Linked DNA regions of Homo sapiens: region 2 is linked to region 1. The links come from fine-mapping of genetic effects on gene expression. Tissue or cell type: ovary. Region 1 holds a variant in brackets; the other region holds the start of a gene. All regions are shown on one strand. Distances are between the middles of the regions.

Region 1 (8,260 bases):
GTGACCTCATTGGGGAGGAAGGGGGAGGTGGCAGGGCAGAGGAAGCAGGGGACAAACAGGAGGAAGAGATGGTGCCCTGGGTCAGGTGGCCGCCACTGCTACCATCAATGGAAGTGGAAAACTCTTTGCCTTCTCCTTACACCTGTCACCATGACACGACACCCCCATGCTTTCTGCCCACCGCCCCCACCTTCTTTAGTAAAGGTGCTGGCAACTAAGGAGCAGAGTCTGATTTGAAGTTGCCGAGGAAACCATCATGGGCAGCTGTGAAACCATCAGGCTTGCCCAGCAGGGAGCTCAGGTTCCCCAAATTGGATGAGCAAATCAGTTTCTGCAGGCCTTGCTGTCCAGGCAAATAAGATGAGGGCAGGGCCATGTGGTTGAGGTGGGTCTGAAACAGGACTCCCAAGGGCACAGGCCCTGCCCAGCCTTGGCACCCAAGGCAGAGCTGGTCAGCCCTGGGCCCCTGTGGGCTGCTATGGCCACCTCCCTTCAGGCGCTGCTGCCCCCACAGAGACGGGCAACCTCTGCAGGTCGCTGGGATTCCAGAGGTGCTCAGAGCCTCCAGATGCCTCACGCAGGCCCTCTCTGCTGGTTCCCCAGGGGCCTCAAAGCGCTGGCCCAGCCACCAGGACACTCCCCTGAGCCTCTCGACCTTCCCGTGGATCCTTTGGAGCCTGGGTTTTGGAGTTTGTCCTTCCTAAAATGCTGCCCACCTGAATGTGGCTGACCCAGAACCACCACTGACCAAGTGCGGCCACGTCCCCTGCAGGCCACCCATCAAGGGCACAGGCAACAGGTGCCCCAAGGGGCCGTGGCCCGTCCTGCCCAGGGCTGACCCTCGGGGTAGGGAGAGGGCACTAACTCGGGTCCTCTACCCTGCCTCAAGGCTCTTTCCTCACCTGGGGGGAAGGGCTTCCAATCCTTGCACCTCAGGGGCCTTCCTGTTTTACTGATGCCAACAAATGAACATTGATCATCTCCCATGTACAGGGACAGAGAAGACAGACAGGCTGGCCCCGGGTGGGTGAGGGAGACTAGTCTGTCAGAGCAAAGACTCCCCATGGAAATAGGGGCTAAGAAGGAAACACCAGGAAAAGTGAAGGTGGAAGATGGGGTGACCCTACTGCAGATGGGGTGCTCAGGGAGGGTTTCTCTGAGGAGGTGACATTCACTTGATTGGTGTATTAGTCTGTTTCATTCAGCTGATAAAAATATACCTGAGACTGGGAAGGAAAAGAGGTTTAATTGGACTTACAATTCCACATGTCTGGGGAGGCCTCAGAATCATGGCAGGAGGCAAAAAGTACTTCTTACGTGGTGGCAGCAGGAGAAAATGAGAAAGAAGCAAAAGCGGAAACCCCTGATAAACCCATCACATCTCATGAGACTTATTCACTATCATGAGAATAGCTTGGGAAATCATGGCCCCCATGATTCAATTACCTCCTCCTGAGTCCCTCCCACAACACATGGGAATTCTGGGAGATACAATCCAAGTTGAGATTTGGGTGGGGACACAGCCAAATGATATCAATTGGCAAAAGGGAAGGGCAGGACCTGTGAAAATCTTCTAAGAGAGGGAACAGCAGTGCCCAGCAGGATGTCCCGGGGGTGGAAATAGGGCAGTGGTTGGGGGTAGGGAGTGTAAGCCAGGCAGGCAGAGCCCAGACACGGTGTGATGCGTGTAAGGGTGGGACCCACGGAAGCTCTAAGAAAGGCCTGGGCCTCAGAAGACAGGGAAACAGGAAGACCCACTTACAGGCCTTCACAGCTTTCTAGGGCACAGACAGTGCAAAATGGCTCAGGCCAGAATGTAGTTTAGGTTTCAGAAGGGTGCTGGGTCCCTCATGCTCTTCTTGAGGCTAAAGGGCTTCAGCTCCTTGAGCCATTTCCAGACATTGTTCTGGGGCCCCGGCTACACGGATGGCCTTCTGATGGTTGTTGTCTGCATCCAGGCAGGGGGCATGAGCTGACCTGCTCCTTCCTTGGCTAAGTGGAAAGATGAAGGAAGCCTCTGGGGGCAGGATTGCTGGACTGGGAATTAGACTTGGAGTGTAATCCAAATGCCCCACAGGCCCTGCCTCTTCTCTGGAGCTTGGCTTCATGTAAACTCGGCTTCATGTAAACTGGGGGACAAGGGATGGCAAGACCAGCTCGCAGGACCCTTGCCCCTCCCCCCTGTGATGCTTCCAAATGGTCTCAGGGGCCACCTTTTTCAGGAAGAATTTTCTGGTTATTGAAGAATAAAGGAAGGAGGCCAGGCGCAGTGGCTCACGCCTGTAATCCCAGCACTTTGGGAGGCTGATGCAGGCAGATCTCTTGAGGATGGAAGTTTGAGATCAGCCTGGCCAACATGGTGAAACCCCATCTCTACGAAAAATTCAAAAAAACAAAAGTAGCCAGGCATGATGGTAGGTGCCTGTAATCCCAGCGACTGGGAGGCTGAGGGAGGAGAATGGCTTGAACCCAGGAGGCAGAGGTTGCAGTGAGCTGAGGTTGCGCCACTACACCCCAGCCTGGGTGACAGAGCGAGACTCTGTCTCAAAAAAAAAAAAAAAAAAAGAATAAAGGAGGAAACATGTTTTGAATGGCATTTATATCAGGCTTTAGACTAGGTGTTGGTTTGGTGGGGTTTGCTTTTTTTTTCTTCCTCCCTTTCACAAAACTTGAGTCCTGTCTAGGGCCAGGAGTTAAATTACAGTTTCCAGATTTTCTTTCCTTTTTTTTTTTTTGAGATGGAGTCTAGCTCTTTTGCCCAGGCTGGAGTGCAGTGGCACAATCTCAGCTCACTGCAACATCCGCCTCCCAGGTCTACACGATTCTCCTGCCTCAGCCTCCTGAATAGCTGGGATTACAGGCATGCGCCATCAAACCCGGCTAATTTTTGTATTTTTAGTAGAGACGAGGTTTCATCATGTTGGTCGGACTGATCTCAAATCCCTGACCTTGTGATCTGCCTGCCTCGGCCTCCCAAAGTGCTGGGATTACAGGCGTGAGCCACAGCACCCGGCCTAGATTTTCTTTTCTTTTCTTTTCTTTTTTTTTTTTTTAGACGGAGTTTCGCTCTGTCGCCCAGGCTGGAGTACAGTGGCAGGATCTCCACTCACTGCAAGCTCCACCTCCTGGGTTCATGCCATTCTCCTGCCTCAGCCTCCTGAGTAGCTGGGACTACAGGCGCCCGCCACCACGCCCGGCTAATTTTTTGTATTTTTAGTAGAGACGGGGTTTCACTGTGTTAGCCAGGATGGTCTCAATCTCCTGACCTCGTGATCCGCCCGCCTTGGCCTCCCAAAGTGCTGGGATTACAGGC[G/A]TGAGCCACCACACCGGGCCCTAGATTTTCATCATTGTATGTAGCACAAGACAGACTTCCAGGGGACCCATGGATAGATTATTAGCAAGTAAATAAAAGATGATTTAGCTAGAGAAAATGTAGCAAAAAAGCAATCAGGATGAGGGGATTAGGAATAGCAGAGGAGGAGCTGGGGGAGAGGGAGTTGGGGGTGGGGCTGGGACAAACAGAAAGGAGGTGGGGCAAAAGGCCAGGGAAATCAAGTCCCAGAGGTCAGCAGGGACCAGAAACCACAGTCTTAGTGGGGACTCAGGACAGCAGAGCAGCAAGCTGCGTCTACCTTGGAAAGGTGGAGAGAGGACTGCAGGGAGCTGAGGGTGGAGGAAGGGGGAGATGGCAGGACAGAGGAAGCAGGGGACAGACAGGAGGAAGAGATGGTGCTCCGGGCCAGGTGGGGTGGAGGGGCCCTCTGGTCTCCAGGAGTCTCTAGGCTGCCCTTCAGCTCACCTATAGCTTTTGATAGGCCTTTGGAGGCCACAGGGTTGCCAGATGCCCTCTTGACTTTTGAATCCTGTTCCACTGACCCTGGTAGCAGCTTGGACATCTGCGTCCTCTGCTGAATGCCTCTGGGCCAGATGTGCTGGGCAAATGGCAGCATCGGCATCTTGCCCAGTTCTCACCCACAGCCGTTGAAGTCTACACGTGGTCAACCTGTCACAAGGTTTTTAATGTTCTTGAACCTCAGGGCCTTTATTTTCTCCATTCTGAATGCCAGGATTCGACATGGACCCTCTCAGGTGTTTTGCCATATGCAACACATTCTCATTGACTCTGGTCACCCTGCTGTGCACTAGATGTCAAAACCTCTTCCTCCTTTCCAACTGAGACTGTGGTTTTTTGACCGACAAGCCCCCATTTCTTCCCTCTGCCACCCCTCCACACACCACTCCCAGCCATCGTTCACCATCGACCCACTCGCTATTTCTATGAGGTCAACTTTTTTAGATGGACACTTCAGGGACATCACGTGGAATGTGTCTTTCTGAGGTGATGCAGATACTATGTAGTGTGATTTTGTCATTCCATGGTGCACACATCTATCTAATCCCCGCACTGTATCTTATAAATGAATACAAGCATGATTTGCCAATTAAAATAATATTAAGAAGAACATAATAAATGTAATAAAACACAGGAAGTGTAGCTTGACTGCCCCACCCACTTGGTTTTTGTCTGGGCCCAGCTGTCCATTGGGTTCACTGGTGCTGCCTTATTTCTCCCTTTGACTTTTTTGTGCTAGTCAGAAACAACATAATTGCAGCATGAAACTGAAACATCTTTTGCCCATGGTAGCCATGGCTCCTTTTAGTCACAGAGATTGAGGTTATACCATCCAGCTTCCCGGGGGTTCCCTCAGACCAAGCCACCTCTTCTGGGTCTTCCACATGGAGCGAGCCGACTTCCCAGTGGGTTCCCAGAGACAAGGATCCTTCAGGTTTTCCCCATGGCTGCTGGTGCTCTGGGGAGGGTGAAGCCACAGACTTATGCTGGGGGGCTTTGCTGGGAATGGCTGGCTTCATCTCCAGGCCAAGTAGGGTTCTGCCCTAACTCCCAGGATGGTGTTCATGCTTCTGTGAATTAGAAAGTGGGAAAGGTCGGCTGGTTTTGAGTCCTCTTCTGGGTTGGACAGGGAAGGTTGACTTAACTGTGGCAGATGGGGAAGGACAGATGGGATCCCCGGGAGGGAGGGATTGTGCTCCGATGTTGGAGCCCTTTCTCCTCTGCACTTTTCTGAACTCCATGATTAGGTAGGTGGCCATGGGATGATCATATATTTTTTTAATATCACTTCCTCGATATGTTCTTCCTAGAATCCCATGGCCACTATGAGCTGGGTTGTTGGGGGGCCTGGGTAGTCCAGGAGTGGCTCTCTGTATGGCTTGAATCATGTCTTCTGGTCACTATTGACCCAGGAGTTCCTCAACAGCTGGTCCAGTGGGAGCTGCTCCCTGGGGTTGAGTGTGAAGAATTTTTAAATATTTTTTTCCATAAAATGAATAAAAAAGTAGCATACTATTTTAATTTTTTTTTTTTCAGTATATCCTTACAGTTCTGCTCATAAAATGGCAGGGCCCCAGCCACCATTTTGCATACGATGATGCCAAGGCTCCAAACGTTGATGGCAGGGCATTGGTACCCATGGCCCAAGAAGAGTTCTGGGCCTGCATAAGGGAGAGTCCCATCAAACGTTCCCTTTTCAGTGTTGTCTCTCTTTGCAAATGTTGAACTAAACCCATAGTTGGCTATTTTGATGTTACGTTCTTTGTCAAAGAAGATATTAAGCTTTGTTCTGACCCCAGGAGAGCTCTTCCCACCTGTCTTTTTTTCTGTTTCTCTCTGGCAGACTTGCTGGCCTCCAGTGTAGCCCGCACCTCCCAGGCTCTCCGTCGCCTCCCAGTTGCCTTTCAGCACAACCTCCACTGTTCTGGAGAGTGTGCTTAGCCTTGGACTTCTCCGAGCTCTGTTGCACATGAAGTCAGTTCCTTCGGGAGCAACTCGCACCTTTTGTTTTCTGTCTGCTGCTTTCTCAGGCAAACTCTCTGAGCCAGAGCTATGGTGCTGGGCACAGTGGTGCATTTCTCTCTGGTGACACCTGCATGTTAGGAGCTGGGCCCTTGGTTGTGGGGAAAAGAAAGAGAGATCAGATTGTTAATGTGTCTGTATAGAAAGTAGACATAAGAGACTCCATTTTAATCTGTAACCTTATCCCCAACCCTGTGCTCCCTGAGACACGTGCTGTGTCAACTCAGGGTTAAATGGATTAAGGGCTGTGCAGGGTGTGCTTTGTTCAACAGATGCTTGAAGGCAGCATGCTCGTTAAGAGTCATCACCACTCCCTAATCTCAAGTACCCGGGGACACAAACACTGCGGAAGGCCACAGGGACCTCTGTCTAGGAAAGCCAGGTATTGTCCAAGGTTTCTCTCCATGTGATAGTCTGAAATATGGCCTCGTGGGAAGGGAAAGACCTGACCGTCCCCCAGCCCGACACCCGTAAAGGGTCTGTGCTGAGGAGGATTAGTAAAAGAGGAAGGCATGCCTCTTTGCAGTTGAGACAAGAGGAAGGCATCTGTCTCCTGCTTGTCCCTGGGCAATGGAATGTCTCGGTGTAAAACCCGATTCCATCTACTGAGATAGGGGAAAACCGCCTTAGGGCTGGAGGTGGGACATGCGGGCAGCAATACTGCTCTTTAAGGCATTGAGATGTTTATGTGTATACATATCTAAAGCACAGCACTTAATTCTTTACCTTGTCTATGATGCAGAGACCTTTGTTCACGTGTTTATCTGCTGACCTTCTCTCCACTGTTATCTGATGATCCTGCCACATCCCCCTCTCCGAGAAACACCCAATAATGATCAATAAATACTAAGGGAACTCAGAGGCTGGGGTGGATTCTCCGTATGCTGAACGCCGGTCCCCTGGGCCTCCTTATTTCTTTCTCTATACTTTGTCTCTGTGTCTCTTTCTTTTCCAAGTCTCTCATTCCACCTAACAAGAAACACCCACAGGTGTGGAGGGGCAACCCACCCCTTCATCTGGTGCCCAACGTGGGTGCTTTTCTCTAGGGTGAAGGTACGCTCGAGTGTGGTCATTGAGGACAAGTCCACAAGAGATCCCGAGTACGTCTACAGTCAGCCTTGCGGTAAGCTTGTGCGCTTGGAAGAAGCCGGGGTAACAATGAGGCAAACTAAAAGTAAAACTAAAAGTAAATATGCCTCTTATCTCAGCTTTATTAAAATTCTTTTAAAAAGCGGGGGAGTTAGAGTACCTACAAAAAATCTGATCAAGCTATTTTGAACAATAGAACAATTTTGCCCATGGTTTCCAGAATAGGGAACTTTAGATCTAAAAGATTGGAAAAAAATTGGCAAAGAATTAAAACAAGCAAGTAGGGAGGGTAAAATCATCCCACTTACAGTATGGAATGATTGGGCCATTATTAAAGCAGCTTTAGAACCATTTCAAACAGAAGAAGATAGCGTTTCAGTTTCTGATGCCCCTGAAGGCTGTGTAATAGATTGTAAAGAAGAGGCGGGGAGGAAATCCCGGAAAGAAATGGAAAGTTTACATTGTGAATATGCAGTAGAGCTGGTAATGGCTCAGTCAATGCAAAATGTTGACTATAATCAATTACAGCAGGTGATATACCCTGAAACGTTAAAATTAGAAGAAAAAGGTCCAGAATTAGTGGGGCCATCAGAGTCTAAACCACGAGGGACAAGTCCTCTTCCAGCAGGTCAGATGCCCGTAACATTACAACCTCAAACACAGGTTAGAGAAAATAAGACCCAACCACCAGTAGCTTATCAATACTGGCTGCCGGCTGAATTTCAGTATCGGCCACCCCCAGAAAGTCAGTATGGACATCCAGGAATGCTCCCAGCACCACAGGGCAGGGCGCCATACCCTCAGCCGCCCACTATGAGACTTAATCCTACAGCACCACCTAATAGACAGGGTAGTGCATTACATAAAATTATTGATAAGTCAAGAAAGCAAGGAGATATTGAGGCGTGGCCATTCCCACTAATGTTAGAACTGATACCACCTGGAGAAGGAGCCCAAGAGGGAGAGCCTCCCACAGTTGAGGCCAGATACAAGTCTTTTTCTATAAAAATGCTAAAAGACATGAAAGAGGGAATAAAACAGTATGGACCCAACTCCCCTTATATGAGGACATTATTAGATTCCATTGCACACGGACATAGACTCATTCCTTATGATTGGGAGATTCTGGCAAAATCGTCTCTCTCACCCTCTCAATTTTTACAATTTAAGATTTGGTGGATTAATGGGGCACAAGAACAGGTCCGAAAAAATAGGGCTGCTAATCCTCCAGTTAACATAGATGCAGATCAACTACTGGGAACTGGTCAAAATTGGAGCACTATTAGTCAACAAGCA
Region 2 (8,000 bases), 77 kb before region 1:
CACCCACCACCCTCCTCAAGTCTCTCTCCACCCTTCCTCGTGCGGTGAAAATATCAAAGGAGAGGCCATGAGGTATAATGGAAGGGGTCATGGTTCTGGGAAGCAGAGAGACCTGGGTTCAAATCTAGTGGTAGATCTAGTGGGCAAGTCACTTAACCTCTCTGAACCTCTTTGTTTTGTCATCTGTAAAATGGGGATGACAATACCTTCCCTGCAGGTTTGTTGTAACATACATCAGTTCCTGCATCTGAGCAATGGAATATAATACCCTTGCTGGGTAGATATGGCTAAAAATACATCCTATAACAAGTGTTGGCAGGGATGTGGAGAAATTAGAATCCTCCCACACTGCAGGTGGGAATACAAAATGGCATCACCACTGTGGAAAAGCAGTTCCTCAATAAGTAAAACATGGAATTGCCATAGGACCTGCCAATTCCACTACTGGATATAGACCCAAAAGAATGGAAAACAGGTGTTCAAACGAAAACTTGTAGACAATGTTCATAGCAGCACTATTCACAACAGCCAAAAGGTAGAAACAATGCAGATGTCCATCAACTGATGCATGGTTAAACAAAATGTGGTACAGCCAAATGAGAATATTATTCAGCCATAAAAAGGAATAAGTATTGATATATGCTACGGTATGGGTGAACCTTGAAAACATTATGCTAAGTGAAACTAGCCAGACACAAAAGGCCACATATTTTATGATTCCAATGAAATCAGCAAATCCATAATTTCTGCTTGACTAACACAAATTAGTGATTGCCAAGAGCCGAGGGAAGGGGAGAATAGGGAGTGGCTGTGTAATAGGTATAGGATTTTTTGGGGGGGTAATGAAAATGTTCTGGAACTACATAGTGGTGATGGTTACACAACATTGTAAATATTATTAAATGTCTTTAATGGGAAATTTTTTATGTGTATTTTACCACAAATATATACATATATATATATATATACGCATATATATACGCACATATATATACGCAGACATATATGCACATATATATACACACACATATATATATACACACACACATATATATACACACATATATAAATATTTGATGTCTTATATCCTGTATTTAAAGGGTCTGGCACAGTGCCTGGCATATAGGAGGTGATTTAAAAAAGCAAGCAACGCAGGAGCCATTACAAAGCTGGAAGTGCCTCTGGGGTTGTCTTAGCCAATCCCCTCATTCCTGAATGAGGAAACTCAGGCCCGGCGAAGGAAAAGAGAAAATGACCAATGTTACATAATAACAAAACCTTTATTTCTAGTGGGCATCCCAGTTAAGCCTTTTCCACACTTCTATGAAATAGGCAAACCAGGTATTAATATCCCCATTTTACAGGTGAAGAAACTGTGGCTCTGAGAGGTTAAGAACCGACAACCAGGTCTAACTCTGAGCCTTTGCTGACTCCTCTTCCATCTGACTTTGAAAAGCTGGAGGGCTCAGGGCTCGCCTTTCTGTATCCTTCCCATGCCTTTCTTTACATACTGACTATATAAATGGCTTTCTGTATTACATATATTGACTATATAATGGCTTTCTGTATCCTTCCCATGGCTTTCTTTACATACTGACTATATAATGACAACTCTCAAATTCCTGTTTCCAATTCCTACTCTTTTCTGAATTCCAGATTTGTATGGAGTCTACCTGGATGTCTAATGGACATTTCAGCCCAATACGTTCAAAGAACACCACATCCCACCCCTCCCCTAAACCTTCTCGGTTTCGCATCTCACCATCTTAGAAAACAGCTGCACTACTCACCCAGTTGCTCAGGCCCAAAATCTAGTAAGCATCTTTTATTCTACTGTTTCTCTATACCCATAATGAATCTATCACCAGGTCCTATTGTTCTCTCTGCAAAATATACCCAGACTGTGACCTCTTCATCATGTCCTCCACTAGATACCACACTAGCTTGTGTTGCCTTTGTACCTAGATGATGCACTTGCCTCCCAAACTGGTCTCCCTGCTTCCTCCGCCCTTGCCCCTTACAATCCGTTTGCTACATAGCAGTGTGAGTAATCTTTAAAGGTGTAGAGAAGACAGTATCACTTTTTCTGCTCATAGCCTTCCAAGAGCTTCCCATTACACTCCAAAAAAAATCTAAACTCTTTTCTGTAGCCCTCGAGGCTTAAGCCTTTGCCTTCACCTTCTAGCACTCTCCCCTTGGCTCACTCCACTCCAGCCACTTCTCAAATACACCAAGCTCAGTCCCATCCTCTGCCCAATTCCCTCCCTGTCACATAGCTCGCTTCTTCACTTCCTGTCTCTCTGTTCAAATGCCAAACCTTGAACACCTTGCCTCCCACCGTCCTGCAGTCTACCGTGCTTCACTGTTTGTTCTTCATCTGACATAATATTATTCACTTACTCATTCACTGCTTGTCTTCTCTACTAGAATGTGAGCTCCAGGAAGGGGGCATTTTGCTTGCCTTGTTTACTGCTATACTATAGATGTTCAGTGCTATTTGTTGAATGAATAAGTGCTCCCCAAGAGTTCCTAGCCCTACACCAGCAGAGCAGAGATTTGGCGGGGAGGGGAATATACACCCCTTCCCCCAGCAGCCCCTTACCTGTCTTTGTATTTGGACAAATTCTCTTCCTCCCAGGCAGTGTTTCCACCTCCAAAGTTGTCCCGGATGGTTCTCTCCAGGCCCTGGAAACAGAAAATTAGTAATAGCTAAGTACAGTGCCTGGCACATGCTAGCACTTCACTGTTCTACTGACTAGGAAACTGAGGCACAGAAAGGCAACCTGCCTAGGGCCATACAACTAGTAAGAGACCAAGATGAAACTTAAATCCACGCAGATTTGCATCCCAGAGTTCCCCACTCTAAATCGCTGTGTTCCCCTCTAACGAGGCTGCCGGTGCACCCACCTTGTTAAAGCTGTCAACCAGTCCCCGGCAGGTATGACACGGATGGGGCTGAGGCGGGGGAGAAGACTGGGGAGGTGGAGAGGGCTGGAGCCAGATAGGTCCTGGGAGGTTGAGGAAGAGGCTGAGGCCCCAGAGCATAGCTGGGACTAGGCCCTTCGGGGGCCATGGGGCCATCTTTACCCAGGCTGGGGACCTGCAGATAGAGGGCGTGGAGAGGCTTCACTGAAGGAGTCAGGCCCCACGCGAGAAAGAAAAAGGTCTGTTCTAAGGTGCCGTGGCGCTGGGATCTGCGTTATTACAAGCAAAAGAGGCCAAACTGGGTATTGCAGGGGCTGTGGGGATGGGTGGGGAAAGGCGCATAAGATGCAATTCCAGAAGAGAAATAAGTTATCCTCGCTAGCATGGGGTGGAGAGGAAAGTGGCCTCGCTCCTTGACAAGGGGGCAGAAGTCAGCCTCTTGTCTGAGGGTCTGATAAAGAATATTAGGGGCCGGATCCGCAGAATTAGGGAGAAGAGATCAGATTCCAAGTACTGAAGGAGAGGAGGCCAGAGGGGTTGTCTTGGGGGAGGTGTCCGGAACCCCGGGCTTGGAGGGAGGAGCCCGGATCCGGATATGAAGGGAAGGGATCAGATTCAGGGCCTCGCAGAAGGGCAAAGGCACGGCCCACGAGCCGGCAGAGAAGGATCCAGACCCTCGTAGGCCACGGAGAAGGAAGAAGCGACCGCCCCAGCCCGCGGGCGCCGTGGGCCGTCTCCTCACCGCGTCGCTGCCACAGCCTGCGTAAAACGCACAACCCCCACCCGCGCCGCAGTCCAGGGGGCGGAGCTTGCCGCCCAGCCAATGGCGACGGGCCATGTGCCATTACGTCACCCCACGCCAGCCAACCAGAGGCGGCACCGAGCTGCACCTGTCCGGGCTTTAAAGGGCCGCGGGGCTAGGGAATGACGTTTGCCAGCCCCGCCACTGAAACGGAGACGCGTGTGGGCCACATGGGTAGAAAAACAGCGTCTGCCTTTATTTAAGTCCCGTCCCCCGCCCCAGGTCCCGCGCCTGGTCCCACCCCGCGTCCCGGCGCGGGAGTCCCCGGGGGATGGAAGTAGCTATCCAGGGCTGGCTGAAGGGCCCGGGACACTTGCTCCGCTCTCTCTTGGAGCCGCCCGGAACGCGGGGCGCGAGGCTGCTGCAGGGCCCCCAGGAAGTCTGGCAGTTGGGAGGGCAGTGTGAAGACGGGCACGGTGCGGAAAAGGGCGGGTACGGCGTCCGGGTGGAGCAGCCTGTCGAAGCAGGCCCCCACGTAGCTGCCGGGCGCCCGGCCCTGCAAGAAGTCGGGCAGCACGCAGCTGAGCGAGGCGCGGAAGGCGTCGTGCGGGCCGTGCGCCCCGGGCCCGGACACCCCATCCTGTAGCCACTCGCTGCACAGCGCCACCGCACCGGGAGAGAAGAGCAAGACCACCACGCCGCCCTCCTGCAGGGTCTGGCGCCGCTGCGCGTGAAACCAAGCCACGGGCCCCTGCGCGCTCAGTTCACGACGGCTCCACAGGTCTACGGCCACGCGCAGCGGCAGCTGGCACAGGGCCGACGCCAGGGCGCCCACCAGGCGCTCGAAACCCGAGTCATCGGCTGAGTAGAGGAGCAGAGCCGCGCGGCCCCTGGCGGCCGCTGCCGGAGAAAACAGATGGGGAGGGAAGAGGTGAGCTGGCACAGGCCTGGCTCCCCGGGGGCGGCCCTCCGCCCAGCGCTTGCTCCCACTCACCCCCCGAGCGGACGTCCTGTTTCAAGAGCCTCAGCCACCCTGTTAGGGGAGAGGGGCGGAGGCAGCCAGTGAGCTCGGCCGCCGCTTTCCCTCGGAGAACTCCCACAGCCACTCTGGTCCTCCCCCAGGGGAATGGGGAGCCGGGAAGCGCTCACCTTTCGCGTGATCCTTTTTGAGAAGGAGGATGAGGGAAAGCGCAGCGGCAAAGAGTAGGCAGGCCAGCCACACGAGGGCCCAGCGCTTGTGGATGTCTGGGAGACCCAGAGAAGAAGAGTTAGAAACTTACCCTCCACAGAGAAGAAAAACTGAGACTTAACAGAAATGAATTGGGCCGGGTGCGGTGGCTCATGCCTTTATATAATCCCAGCACTTCGGGAGGCCGAGGCGGGCAGATCACGAGGTCAGGACATCAAGACCATCCTGGCTAACACGGTGAAACCCCGTCTCTACTAAAAATACAAAAAATTAGCCGGGCGTGGTGGCACACGCCTGTAATCCCAGCTACTCGGGAGGCTGAGGCAAGAGAATCGCTTGAACTCGGGAGGCAGAGGTTGCAGTGAGCCGAGATCGCGCCATTGCACTCCAGCCTGGGCGACAGGGTGAGACTCCTCTCAAAACAAAACAAAACAAAACAAAAAACGAAGAAATGATTTGCCCAGAGTCCACAGCACAGTGTCAGAGCCAGTGGATGAATATAGCTCCATCTGTTTAGGGGTCTTTGAATAAGTAATGTCACCCTCTGCCTCAGTTTTCTCCTCTGTAAAGTTGTACCTGTGTCATAGGGTTGGTGTGAGGACTAAATATATTAATACATATAAAGCTTAACACAATGTGTTAATACATACTTAACACAATGCCGAGCATCTTAAGTGCTAAAATGTCAGCTGTTTTTCTCCCCTAAGCTAGGGTTGCTGGGCCCTTGATCTTGCTGTCCTGGGTGTCTGCAACTACCTGGTGTCCCTGCCCTGTCTTTTTTTTTTTTTTTTTACCTCCAATTGATTTGCCTTGAATTGATTCATGACAGCCTCAGAGATCTTTTAAAAATATAAATTTGGGCCAGGTGCGGTGACTCACGACTATAATCCCAGCACTTTGGGAGGCCGACGCGGGCGGATCACGAGGTCAGGAGTTCAAGACCAGCCTGGCCAAGATGGTGAAACCCCATCTCTACTAAAAATACAAAAATTAGCAGGGCATGGTGGCAGGCGCCTATTAATCCCAGCTACCCGGGAGGCTGAGGTAGAGAATTGCTTGAACCCGGGAGGCAGAGGTTGCAGTTAGCCGAGATCGCGCCATTGCACTCCAGCCTGGGCAACAGAGTGAGACTCTGCCTCAAAAATAAATAAAAAAATAAGTATATATATATATATATATATATATATATATATGTGTGTGTGTGTGTGTGAAATATATAAAAATTTGATCGTAGCTCCTGCTGCTCTCAACATAAGATCCAAATCCCCTACATGTCTCCTGCATCTTTATCTCATGACAGAAACCTGCCTGTCCAAGACCCTGTATCTCTACCCCCTTCCCCTAGCTCAGTCTTCAGAGTTTTGCTGGAACCTTCCCCCTGAGCCCCTCACCCCTCACCCCACCCAGGTCAGGTCCACATTGTATGCATTTACAGCACTGAACACTTGGTGGTGCTTCAGTAGCTCCCACTTTAAATGTAAGTGACTGGCTCATGTCTTGCTAGTCTTCTAGGGGTGGGGCGGGGGCAAGGATTTATATTTTTGGTGTTCCTGCGATCCCTGCAAGCTCTCATCATTTTTTGAGTGAATGAAGGAATGACCCTCTGTTTATCTGATCTCAGGGAAGGACAAGGCCATTGCATGTGCTGTGCCCAAGAGTGGTCCCTGTCAAGATCCCCACTCCTGGTACAGAAAGGAAAGGCAGTTCTTACAATACTCACATTTGTCCATGGGGCAGGCCCATAGCGCTCCCAAGTCATCGTCCCATAGCTGTAAGATACAAACAGAACCAAATCCAGGGCACCAGCCAGGTGTTCCAATATTCACCAAGCTCTGGTGGCCTGATCTCCAAATTCCCAGCATCAACTATGCATATCTCCCGGCTAAGGTTCCTGCAGCTGCTCTGCCTTTGTGCTGTGCCCACTGACTAGGGTATGACTTCTTCCATACCAAATCTGGCTTATAGGAAGAAATTCTTCCCGGAAGCTCTCCCTGGAACCCAAAACTTAGCACCTGTAGGTGTGGTTATCTGTTTATGGGTGTCTAGCCAACAGTGTGCTCCTTGGGGATAGGAACTGTGCTTCTTCTACTCTTAACTTTCCCAGGGCTGAACATAAAATAAGCCTAAATAGACAGTAGGTGAGTGCTAGTTTTAGGCCTGTTGCCCCTAGGCATTGAGGTGGGGCCCTTCTTCCACCAGCTCACCTGCAGACACTGGCCTGACTGCAGGTCTTGTAGTAAGTACTCTCCAAGGCGAGCTGCCCTCTGCCAAGCCAAAGGATGGGGGCACTGTTACCTGGAGGTAGCACCCTTAGGGCAGCACCTACCAGGCTACAGCTGGGTAGAATGAGGTAGAGGGGACTGGGAGACTTTGGTGATGCCGCTGAATATGGCCCTGGTCTGAGTCACCCCCCATGTTCCCAGAGACCGGCACAGGGTGGATGGAGTGAAAATTTGAGGCCAGATGTGAGATGCATTTGGAGAGATCTGTGGAGGAGGGTCGCCCAGTCCTAACCGTGGAGGCTTTGCTGGGTAGTGAAGTACAGCCACTGGGTTCCAAGGCACAGAGGGATCTGTTGTCCTGGGGGCCTCGTGTCTCCAACAGTAGCACATCGTCTTTGAGAGGCCCCAGGGAGTCTGGAAGGGGTGAGAGGCCACTCTGACCAAGACCCATCCTTGCTGGGATTGGCCACTTGCCTGCCTCCCATGCCCTGACCTTCACCCCTAGGAGGTGGCCCTGCCCCAGCTGCCCCCAGGCCCAACTCACCAGCCCACAAGCACTCCTGCAGCTGCAGCTTCTCCGAGCTGTTCACCTGCTGGGAAGAGACCATGGTTAGGGCCACTAAGAAAAGCAAAAGCCAAAGGCAGAAAGACCAGAATGGGGCAGGCAACAGAAGGCCTGTTGGGTTGGGAATCTGCACTCAATCTGACCTGAGGCAGATGTGGATTCAAGGCTGGGTGATTAGGAATCACTACATCTTTCTCTGCCCCAGCCTTGTGAGATCATCTGTATAAAGCGTCTTCTGACCCTAAAGCTGTTTTTATGTCTTACGGAGCATGGTTCCCCTCTCATCTAACCTTCTCAAAGAGATTCCTTTCTCACATGACCACCCTGCTAAAAATTGCAACCCCAGTCCCACCTTAT

The links. PIP is the estimated chance that this variant, and not a neighbour inherited with it, causes the effect.
Region 2: it holds the start of CRELD1, and the variant in region 1 is fine-mapped to the expression of CRELD1 in ovary (GTEx, PIP 0.96).

The regions. Positions count from the first base shown.
Region 1 is chr3:9,852,265-9,860,524 of GRCh38, reverse strand. It overlaps the pseudogene MARK2P1. Among named protein-coding and RNA genes, the nearest start is that of RPUSD3, 12 kb to the right of the region's middle. RefSeq lists enhancers at 658-1,198, 5,947-6,616. The variant G/A (reference allele first, on the strand shown) is at 3,314.
Region 2 is chr3:9,929,520-9,937,519 of GRCh38, reverse strand. CRELD1 (CRELD disulfide isomerase 1) reads right to left here and starts at 3,686. Exons shown (of 11, transcript NM_001077415.3): 1 at 3,600-3,686; 2 at 2,908-3,100; 3 at 2,603-2,685. The coding sequence starts at 3,081. IL17RC (interleukin 17 receptor C) reads right to left here. Exons shown (of 19, transcript NM_153460.4): 13 at 7,623-7,668; 14 at 7,371-7,492; 15 at 7,061-7,120; 16 at 6,577-6,625; 17 at 4,817-4,912; 18 at 4,662-4,700; 19 at 3,899-4,567. The coding sequence ends at 3,927. RefSeq lists an enhancer at 3,275-3,644 and silencers at 3,745-4,074, 4,655-4,714.